Regions from separate parts of the Homo sapiens genome. Here region 2 is linked to region 1. A link means that fine-mapping ties the variant in region 1 to the expression of a gene that starts in the linked region. Tissue or cell type: lung. Region 1 holds a variant in brackets; the other region holds the start of a gene. All regions are shown on one strand. Distances are between the middles of the regions.

Region 1 (5,000 bases):
AGCCCCTGTGAGAGTGGAGACAACACCGGTGAACCCTCTGCCCTGGAAGAGCAGAGAGGGCCTTTGCCTCTCAACAAGACCTTGTTTCTGGGCTACGCATTTCTCCTTACCATGGCCACAACCAGTGACAAGTTGGCCAGCCGCTCCAAACTGCCAGATGGTCCTACAGGAAGCAGTGAAGAAGAGGAGGGTAAGGCCTTAGGAAGCCCTGGGAGCTCTGACACATAGGCACTTCTTTCTTTTCCAGTCACTTATGAGCTGGTGGTCCCCCTGTTGTATGTAGAGGAGGCAAGGCAAGTAGCAACTGGGATCTTGGTCACAGAAATTACTCTGTATCCTGCTTTTTAACAGTTTCTAGACTGTTTTCACAAAATTCCTCTCAGTGAGTGGTTCCTGAAAACAATCCTGTGAGGCAGATGGGAGATAGATCTTATCTATTTTATGGATGAGGAAACAAGTTTGGAGAGGTTAAAGGTTAAATAATTGTGTTTTTTTTGTCCACAATAATGACAAACCTGTGACTAGAGCTCTGTCATTTTAGCCTACTGCAACCATCCAAGTCAATCAGGTCTGAATGCCCTGCCATCTTCCCCATTTGCGTTCTATGGGCATCTGCTAGAGCAAACCCATGTGGAGGGTAAGGTTCATTCTCCTGAGGTCTAAGACTGGGACTGTGGGGTGCCTGGTTCCTCAGGGTGATTGCAAAGAAACAGCTTCTAGGCCTTTTCAACTCTTATACCTCTCTTTAACCTTAAATTAAATCTGTACATTGCATTTATTTCTGTGTTGTCTGTTAGTTTTTGAAGGAAGGCTGCAGTGGGTAGAGGTCTGAAAAATGAGTGATCTAGGAGAGGGAATGAGCAGATATAAATGTATACACTGTAAATGTGACTGACAGCAGTATCTGAATGTGTCTGTAAAGGCTAAAGGTCCAGATGGAATGATGTTGTACAAGTTAGAGTTCTGACTAATGTTGTCTTGCAAGAGGGAATTGAATTAGGCAACATGGTTGTCATAATTTGCACCACTGGACATCTGTGAGGGTTGGCATTTCAGGTGTGTGGATGACTCTTTCCTAATTAACCAAAACTATATCTCACCGACTGCAGCCATGTGTAGATATGTACAAGGACATGGAAGGGATGATCAGGGGCAGGCTTTGGTTTGGGAGAGTTGGGCTGTGGGAGTGAGTAGATGTGGTGTGGTGGGATTTCAAGGTCCAGTGTTTGCAACACCTAGCTTGTCAAACAATCAGATAGGCACAGTGGGAATAAGGTATTTGAAGAGTTTCCTGGACAGGAAAATTGGGAGTCTTTTGAGGATTCTGCATAGAGGTGTGTCATGGCATTAAAACAGTGGTCATGGTCATGGGTTTTTTTTTCCCCCTTTTACAATATTGCTGGACTTGAAACCAGGACTTCACAAGGCAGCTGTATAGATGTTTTGTTTGTTGCTTGGTTCAGCATAGTCAAGAAAGCTGACTGGTATGAGATGCAGGCTGTCCAGTTTCATTAAAATCCGTGTGCCTGCGTGAGATGTAATAAAACTGTACTCATAAAAATAAAATGAGGCATTTGGACAGTGTTTTTGAAGGGATCTTCAGGTTTCTGATAGACAGTGTGGTTATGGTGAATGTGTCTTTATGTTGGTGCCTTCATCCTTGGGCGCAGCCCAACAGTACCAGAATCCTTGATATTTTCAGTGTATGAGAATGCTTGGGGGTTTCTCAATCTCAAGAAGGCGGAAGACATCTAATACTAAAACAATCCTCTACAGAATTATAGTTTTTAAGAAACTGTTTGGTAGATGTTACAGATAAATAGGAATTCTTAGACACCAGCTTACAACAGGAGCTCAGTAAAATATTTAAATTCATCTTATGAGATATATTTATTAATAAGTTTGGTACCTAATCTTGTTGGGTGGCACACCATCAGAGATCCTTCAGACACAGGGATTGACCCTGGAGTTGGGTTTATTTAGTACCTTCATACTTGATTTAGATGGCACGATTAACAACCTATTCATTTTAGCATCTGGCTGGGCAGGGCACTTATACCTCAAAAATGAAGAAATTGGAACCCAGACTATTTGAGAAAAATTAGAGAAACACACTGCCTAGACAGGGTAATACTTCATTAGACAAATTAAGGAAATATAATTAGGGATTAAAATCTAAGTAGACCAGTCCTGGATTAAGCAGACATAAAGTAGAAGTCTTGAGAAAA[AT/T]ACAGGACTGTAAGGGGTGTTGGCAGTGACTCAGCAGTAGAATCTTGGTGCTGAAGATTGTGACATGCTATATTGAGATAGCAAAAGGGTGCTATGACAAAGCTGAGAAATAGCCCTGCTGTATTCTGAGTTTCTTATAACCATTTAGAGTTTCTGTTTTGGGATTTCAATTTGAGAAGAATGTGGAGAATGCTGAATCAAGAAAAGAGCAGTAAAAGTGAATAGGTTGGCTAGTCAGAACTAAGTGGAGATGGAGACCCCTGACCTGGGGCCTCGGCGGTGCCTGAGCTCCTCCAGCAGACAACGAGGGCACTGAAGGGGGAGCCGTCATAAGGGATCTGCTCTAAGTTTTACTACTGGGTGTGAAGGGGAAGGGGAGTGGTACCGGCATTGAACCTTATGCACTGGATTGGGTTGGGTTTTAAAATTTGTGATAAAAATTTCAGTTAATTAGAACTTAATTTCCCAAAACTCCTAATTAACTAAAATCTCTAATGTCTTGCTTTTCTTTTCTTTTTTTTTTTAATGTGTTATTTATATATGAGAGGAGCAGATGACAAGAAAACAAGCTCAAATTAGATATTTGGTCAAAAGAAGCAATTTCTAATTGCCTAGGGTCATTACAGCTTCAGCCTCATCTCTCATATCTTCTACTTCACTCTCAAGACTATAGAGCAGTCATTGGTGTTCAGTGTCCTGAGGTACTTCAAGATCATCAAAGGTAGATAGTTTTCAATAAAAAGGTTGAAACAGGATTTTCTAACCTTCACTTAATCAGTTAAAATTTTAAAACCATATTTCATTGAGCATTCTGGTTTATTAAAGTTTTAGTTGTACAAGGGGGTAAAAAGGCTGATGCAGTGGTTTATAATAAACCCTTCATATATAACTTATAAAGTGTTCATCAGCTATTCATCTCCACAGAAGGCAGAACTAGAGGAAATGGGGTTTAGTTTTCAACAGGAAAGATTTAGGATAGACACAAAGGGAACTTCCTGATGGTAAGGGTTATTCAAGTTGGAATATGTCACTGTGGGAAATGATTGTGTTCCCATCCCTATCAACGGTCCGGTGCAGGAACCTTTGATGTTTTTAGGTCTAGGACCTACCTCCAGTCCTCATCTTCCCATTCCCTCCTACTCTTGTCCCTTCTTTTGGCAGCATTTTAAAGGCCTCAAGATCTCTTTCTGACCCATGGGGAAGCCCTTGGCCTGTCTTTGGGGACACACTGTTGTGGATAGCTGGGGAGTGGAAAAGGGGGCAGTAAGAAGGAGGCATAAGGTAGCAAATAAGAAAACCACTCAGTAATTATTATCTTGGTTTTTTTTTTTAATATAGAATTTTTGGAAATTCCTCCTTTCAACAAGCAGTATACAGAATCCCAGCTTCGAGCAGGAGCTGGCTATATCCTTGAAGATTTCAATGAAGCCCAGGTGAGGAGTTTCTTTGTGTAACCTAATATAGTGGCAATGATAAGAGCCAACTTGCTGTGTTGAGAAGAGGCCTGGGAGGGGTTGGGGAACCTGGATAAAGTAGCCAGAGATTTCAGGAACTGAGAAACTGCCAAAATGTTTTTGCATGAAATAGAATTTTTGTTGTGTATAGGGAAGAGAAGGTAGGACCTTGGGTTAGTTAATGGCTATGGTTCTGTTGCTGGGACAAAAGAAGATTGATGTTTATGTTTAGTAGTAGAAACCCCTATTAGGGTTGCTGATTTTTAGCCTGAAAGGCTGAGTTCATAGGTTTTGGTTGTCCGTTGAGGATTTAGGTCCTCAGTATGCTGCAGGTGAGGCAGAGAGAACATCTATGGAAATTACTTGGGCCTTCCAGTGAGAAGAGTGGCCTTGGGCAGGATAGACTAAATCACATTTTGGGTAGTAGTTGGGAGTCTTCAGATCTGCTCTTCATGGCTCATTATGGCTGCTGCTTAGGAGCTTTCCACAGAAGTCACCAAACCCATTGGCTCTGCTTCTTTTCTTGCAGTGTAACACAGCTTACCAGTGTCTTCTAATTGCGGATCAGCATTGTCGAACCCGGAAGTACTTCCTGTGCCTTGCCAGTGGGATTCCTTGTGTGTCTCATGTCTGGGTCCATGATAGTTGCCATGCCAACCAGCTCCAGAACTACCGTAATTATCTGTTGCCAGCTGGGTACAGCCTTGAGGAGCAAAGAATTCTGGACTGGTAAGTATTTGAAGCCCATCCAGAATTGTATAGGCAGGAGGACAGCAAGCTTTGGAGGGAAGAGAATCTAGGTGAGAGAGTAAAGCTTTCTAGAAATTGGAATGTCTGTGGGATAAATTTGAGTGGGTTTGAAATGACTTCAGGAGTTTATCTAGTTTATTTCCCTAGGTTACATTGGCTAGGAACCTTTTGCAAATGTGTGAAGATTTGTATATAGGTTCAATATTCTCAACCTGTAAAGTCAGAGAACTAAGTTTTAAGCAAGCATTAAAAATATATAGGCTCAGGAGCATGATTTGGATTATTCTCAGCCCCAGAACAAACATGGAAATTAGAAAGCCAGGAATGCAAGGAATACAGATCATTCATAGAAAGAAGGAAGAGAAGGGGGACCCTAATATAGGGCTTAGTTTTTTAAGATGAAGTCTTGCTCTGTCACCTAGGCTGGAGTACAGTGGCGCAGTGACGACTTACTGCAGCCTCAACCTCCCAGGCTGAAGTGATCCCCCTACCTCAGCCTCCCAAGCTGCTGGGACTACAGGCACTCGCCACCACACCCAGCTAATTTTTTTGTTGTCTTTTGTAGAG
Region 2 (5,320 bases), 240 kb before region 1:
TGTTAGCTGGTTATTTTGCTCATTAGTTGATGCAGTTTCTTCCTAGTCTCGATGGTCTTTACATTTTGGCATGATTTTGCAGCGGCTGGTACCGTTTGTTCCTGTCCATGTTTAGTGCTTCCTTCAGGAGCTCTTTTAGGGCAGGCCTGGTGGTGACAAAATCTCTCAGCATTTGCTTGTCTGTAAAGTATTTTATTTCTCCTTCACTTATGAAGCTTAATTTGGCTGGATATGAAATTCTGGGTTGAAAATTCTTTTCTTTAAGAATGTTGAATATTGGCCCCCACTCTCTTCTGGCTTGTAGAGTTTATGCCGAGAGATCTGCTGTTAGCCTGATGGGCTTCCCTTTCAGGGTAACCCACCTTTCTCTCTGGCTGCCCTTAACATTTTTTCCTTCATTTCAACTTTGGTGAATCTGACAATTATGTGTCTTGGTGTTGCTCTTCTCGAGGAGTATCTTTGTGGCATTCTCTGTATTTCCTGAATCTGAATGTTGGCCTGCCTTGCTAGATTGGGGAAGTTCTCCTGGATAATATCCTGTAGAGTGTTTTCCAACTTGGTTCCATTCTCCCCATCACTTTCAGGTACACCAGTCAGACGTAGATTTGGTCTTTTCACATAGTCCCATATTTCTTGGAGGCTTTGCTCATTTCTTTTTATTCTTTTTTCTCTAAACTTCCCTTCTCGCTTCATTTCATTCATTTCATCTTCCATCGCTGATACCCTTTCTTCCAGTTGATTGCATCGGCTCCTGAGGCTTCTGCATTCTTCACGTAGTTCTTGAGCCTTGGCTTTCAGCTCCATCAGCTCCTTTAAGCACTTCTCTGTATTGGTTATTGTAGTTATACATTCTTCTAAATTTTTTTCAAAGTTTTCAACTTCTTTGCCTTTGGTTTGAATGTCCTCCCGTAGCTCAGAGTAATTTGATCGTCTGAAGCCTTCTTCTCTCAGCTCGTCAAAGTCATTCTCCGTCCAGCTTTGTTCCGTTGCTGGTGAGGAACTGTGTTCCTTTGGAGGAGGAGAGGTGCTCTGCTTTTTAGAGTTTGCAGTTTTTCTGCTCTGTTTTTTCCCCATCTTTGTGGTTCTATCTACTTTTGGTTTTCGATGATGGTGATGTACAGATGGGTTTTTGGTGTGGACGTCCTTTCTGTTTGTTAGTTTTCCTTCTAACAGACAGGACCCTCAGCTGCAGGTCTGTTGGAGTACCTGGCCGTGTGAGGTGTCAGTCTGCCCCTGCTGGGGGTTGCCTCCCAGTTAGGCTGCTTGGGGGTCAGGGGTCAGGGACCCACTTGAGGAGGCAGTCTGGCCGTTCTCAGATCTCCAGCTGCGTGCTAGGAGAACCACTGCTCTCTTCAAAGCTGTCAGACAGGGACATTTAAGTCTGCAGAGGTTACTGCTGTCTTTTTGTTTGTCTGTGCCCTGCCCCCAGAGGTGGAGCCTACAGAGGCAGGCAGGCCTCCTTGAGCTGTGGTGGGCTCCACCCAGTTCGAGCTTCCCGGCTGCTTTGTTTACCTAAGCAAGCCTGGGCAATGGCAGGCACCCCTCCCCCAGCCTCGCTGCCGCCTTGCAGTTTGATCTCAGACTGCTGTGCTAGCAATCAGCGAGACTCCGTGGGTGTAGGACCCTCCGAGCCAGGTGCGGGATATAATCTCCTGGTGCGCTGTTTTTTAAGCCCGTCGGAAAAGCGAAGTTTTCGGGTGGGAGTGACCCGATTTTCCAGGTGCTGTCTGTCACCACTTTCTTTGACTAGGAAAGGGAACTCCCTGACCCCTTGCGCTTCCCGAGTGAGGCAATGCCTCGCCCTGCTTCGGCTCGTGCACAGTGCGCGCACCCACTGACCTGCGCCCACTGTCTGGCACTCCCTATTGAGATGAACCGGGTACCTCAGATGGAAATGCAGAAATCACCCGTCTTCTGCGTCACTCATGCTGGGAGCTGTCGACTGGAGCTGTTCCTATTCGGAGTATTGACATTTTAAAGAAATCCTAATTAAAATGGACAATATGGACAGATTATGATGGAATTATTCTTGTTCAGGTACTCTTTTCGTTTGGACAGAGGTATCTGCCGGTACTGAGATGTAAGTGATCAGCTGAAGGGAGAAACTGTACACCATGTGACGGACAAATTGCCTGCCTCAAGAAAGCACTTAGGACCATTCTGCAGCCACTCAGTGACCTTGGCTAGAAACCAATGGCTGTGCGGCGTGAGGTAAGATGAAAGGAAATACCCTAGGGATCCAGGACTTCTGCATTTGGTGAAACGTCCGCTTCCACTACAAGGCTTTGGGATGTCTAGTCTGTAGACTGGAGTAACATTAATACTGACTCATGCAGAAACAATATAGCTACATATTGAACTGGGGGAAGGGGTGGCAAAACCCTCTGCAAATAGGAAGTGCCACAAGAGCACCGAGATAAGGATGAGGCCCTGCGTGAGCGCAGCCTTCGGGTTTTCCTTGGGCCGATCAGCACCGACTCCACCGCTCTCGGCGAGGCACCTCCAGCTCCCGGGAATGAGAAATGTGCCCGCCACAGCAGGGGCCCACAGGAATGAAGGGCGCCGGCGCTGCGTAGGCCCAACAGTTCCCCGCGCCCTCGCCCCCGGCCCCGGCCCAGCCCGGCCCTTCTTCCCCCGCCTTGGCAGAGTGGCGTCATCAGGGGGCGAAAAACCCGACGAGCATGAGGCCCGCAGATCCCGTGTAGGAGATGCGACTCTCGAAGTTGTCGTCCGTGAGTTCGGAGGCAGCGGCGAGGCGGGCCGCGGCAAGAAGCAGCGCCACACCCGGGAACAGCGCTAGGCGGCGGAGGCGCATGGCGGCGAGGTGGGGTGGGGACGGCCGGAAGGGTCGCGGCTCGGCTGGGACTGCGGAGGTCGGGCGCGCGACCACAAACCGGCTGCCTGCGCTGGCGCGTCTGGCCCAGGGGACCTGCAGCCGGAGGTCCCAACCCCCAAACCCGGCTCGGGCCGCTGTGTGGCAGCCGCTGATTGGCTGCGCGTCGCCTTCGTCCGGCGGGCGGGACCAGCTGGTTACCGCTGAGTGGCCGGAGAGCGGGGCGGGGCGGGGCCTAGGCGGCGAGTGGCTGGGCGAGCGTTGCTCCGCATGGTCCTGGGCTGTGGGTAGGGGCTAGGGCCGGGTCCCGGGGTGAGCCGAAACCTGGGGGTCGAGCGGGGCGGGGAATGGGGCGCAGTGAGGCTGGGAGCCGGCCCTGAGCTCGTCTTGCATAGGGGTAGCCAGGCTCGGGGCACCTGAGCTGGAGGCGGAAGCGTGAAATAAGGACTGAGTGGGCAAAGAGAACCTGGGCTGAGGTGAGGCCCAGAAGCGAGAATGGAGGAGAGAAGGAGCTAGCCCCCGAAGGAGTGTTGGAGTGGACACACTTGGGACGGGACCCATTTTCAAAATGTCAGGCTTTGGCATTTTGTCCAATTTCTCTGCACTTGGTTTCTCTTGCGTGAGCAGGCCAAGACCTCCCCCAACTCCACCTCATTGCCCGATTGTCTCAGGCACAGGTGGGACCCAGATTCTTTGTCCAGCCCCGGGCCCCTGCCCTTGTGGCTGCTCCTTTTTCTTGCGGTGTTTTTGTTTGTTTTGTTTTGTTTTTAATGAGTTTTAATTAGAAATGCCATCACAAAGTGAAGATGCCTGGCCGCTTGGTCGACTGTGCAATGTCTTTACCACTTAGCCCCTTTTGTTTCAAAACACCCTGAGTCCTAGTAGAATGTTTGTTCTTCCCAACTGCTCCTAGTTCGTAGATGTGGGTACATTAAGGAATCTTAAGGGTAAAGAGGGTGGGGAGGAGGGGACAGAAAACCTGTAATCCTTGGTGCAGCTCCAAGAATGAAATGACACTTGATGCTTACATTTTCTTAGCAGACATGGCCGCTTACCAACAAGAAGAGCAGATGCAGCTTCCCCGAGCTGATGCCATTCGTTCACGTCTCATCGATACTTTCTCTCTCATTGAGCATTTGCAAGGCTTGAGCCAAGCTGTGCCGCGGCACACTATCAGGGAGTTACTTGGTCAGCAGCCTATTTCTTCACTAATTTAAATTTAAGACTCCTATCCACATCCTCTACATTTAAGAGTGGAAAATTCTGGGGAGGTTTAGTTGCTGGTTTACCAAACTTGATAAATCAAGGGCTTGTAAATAAAACTGAAGAGATAGAATCCACGTCTTTCACTTTTAGGCCTAGGATAGCCACTAGCCATGGATGATTGGGAAGAGTTTCTGTCAAAGACTCTTAAAACTTTGAGAGTGAGCCTGCTGCTTTTGTGGGCATGGACAGTGTTGGTCATAAGCAATACATTTGCTCTCACTCCAAACAGAATTCTTAGTTGCTGTGAGAAGAGAAGGACTAGCAGTAAGGCATTAGGGGAACCCATTACCTGACCAGTATCCCTGCCCCCAACCCTACCTGGTCTATTTTGTTTGTATTTATCCACTATCCCTTTTTAATTTTTGTTGTAGATCCTTCCCGCCAGAAGAAACTTGTATTGGGAGATCAACACCAGCTAGTGCGTTTCTCTATAAAGCCTCAGCGTATAGAACAGATTTCACATGCCCAGAGGCTGTTGAGCAGGCTTCATGTGCGCTGCAGTCAGAGGCCACCTCTTTCTTTGTGGGCCGGATGGGTCCTTGAGTGTATCCTTTCATGTCACTCATTTTTATCCTGGCTGTTGATCATCTGCCTAATGACTTATTTTTTGCTCCCCATACTCCACTGTCTCATTTTCACTGCTTATGTTATTGCTCTTATTATTTCAGCTGCATAAATCAGAAAGAACTCCACTCTGTACATTTCCTTAAGAGACAACAGGTCCTCTCTTCAAAAACTTCATCATCTTCCTGGTCTTTTTGAATACGATCATATTGATGGTTGAAATAGGTGAGAACTGACCTTGTATGAAAGAGGAAGTGAGGCCGGGCACGCCGGCTCACACGTGTAATCCTAGCACTTTGGGAGGCCGGGGCGTGTGGATTGCCGGAGCTCAGGAGTTGGAGACCAGCCTGGGCAACATGGTGAAACCCTGTCTCTACTAAAAAATACAAAAAATTAGCCGGGCTTGGTAGCACGCGCTTGTAGTCCCAGCTACTTGGGAGGCTGAGGCAGGAGAATCGCTTAAACCCAGGAGGCGTAGGTTTCAGTGAGCCGAGATTGTGCCACTGCATTTCAGCCTGGGCGACAGAGTACAACTCTGTCTCAAAAAAAAAAAAAAGAAAAAGAAAAAGAGGAAGTGGGTAGGAGTAATTTTTTTTTCTAAATTGATCATTTTACATTTTTGAATGTCATTTGAAATGTGACATTTATATTAAGGAC

What was found. PIP is the estimated chance that this variant, and not a neighbour inherited with it, causes the effect.
Region 2: CATSPER2 starts here. The variant in region 1 is fine-mapped to the expression of CATSPER2 in lung (GTEx, PIP above 0.99). The same link has a PIP of 0.9 or more in breast, sigmoid colon, tibial nerve, unexposed skin and whole blood.

Annotation. Positions count from the first base shown.
Region 1 is chr15:43,408,309-43,413,308 of GRCh38, reverse strand. It overlaps TUBGCP4 (tubulin gamma complex component 4), which reads right to left. Exons shown (of 18, transcript NM_014444.5): 18 at 3,538-5,000. TP53BP1 (tumor protein p53 binding protein 1) reads left to right here. Exons shown (of 28, transcript NM_001141980.3): 24 at 1-190; 25 at 3,568-3,662; 26 at 4,213-4,412. Among named protein-coding and RNA genes, the nearest start is that of TUBGCP4, 40 kb to the right of the region's middle. The variant AT/T (reference allele first, on the strand shown) is at 2,229.
Region 2 is chr15:43,646,618-43,651,937 of GRCh38, reverse strand. It overlaps CATSPER2 (cation channel sperm associated 2), which reads left to right and starts at 3,094. Exons shown (of 13, transcript NM_172095.4): 1 at 3,094-3,309; 2 at 3,875-4,021; 3 at 4,471-4,644; 4 at 4,820-4,888. The coding sequence starts at 3,877. It also overlaps the pseudogene PPIP5K1P1-CATSPER2 and the pseudogene PDIA3P2.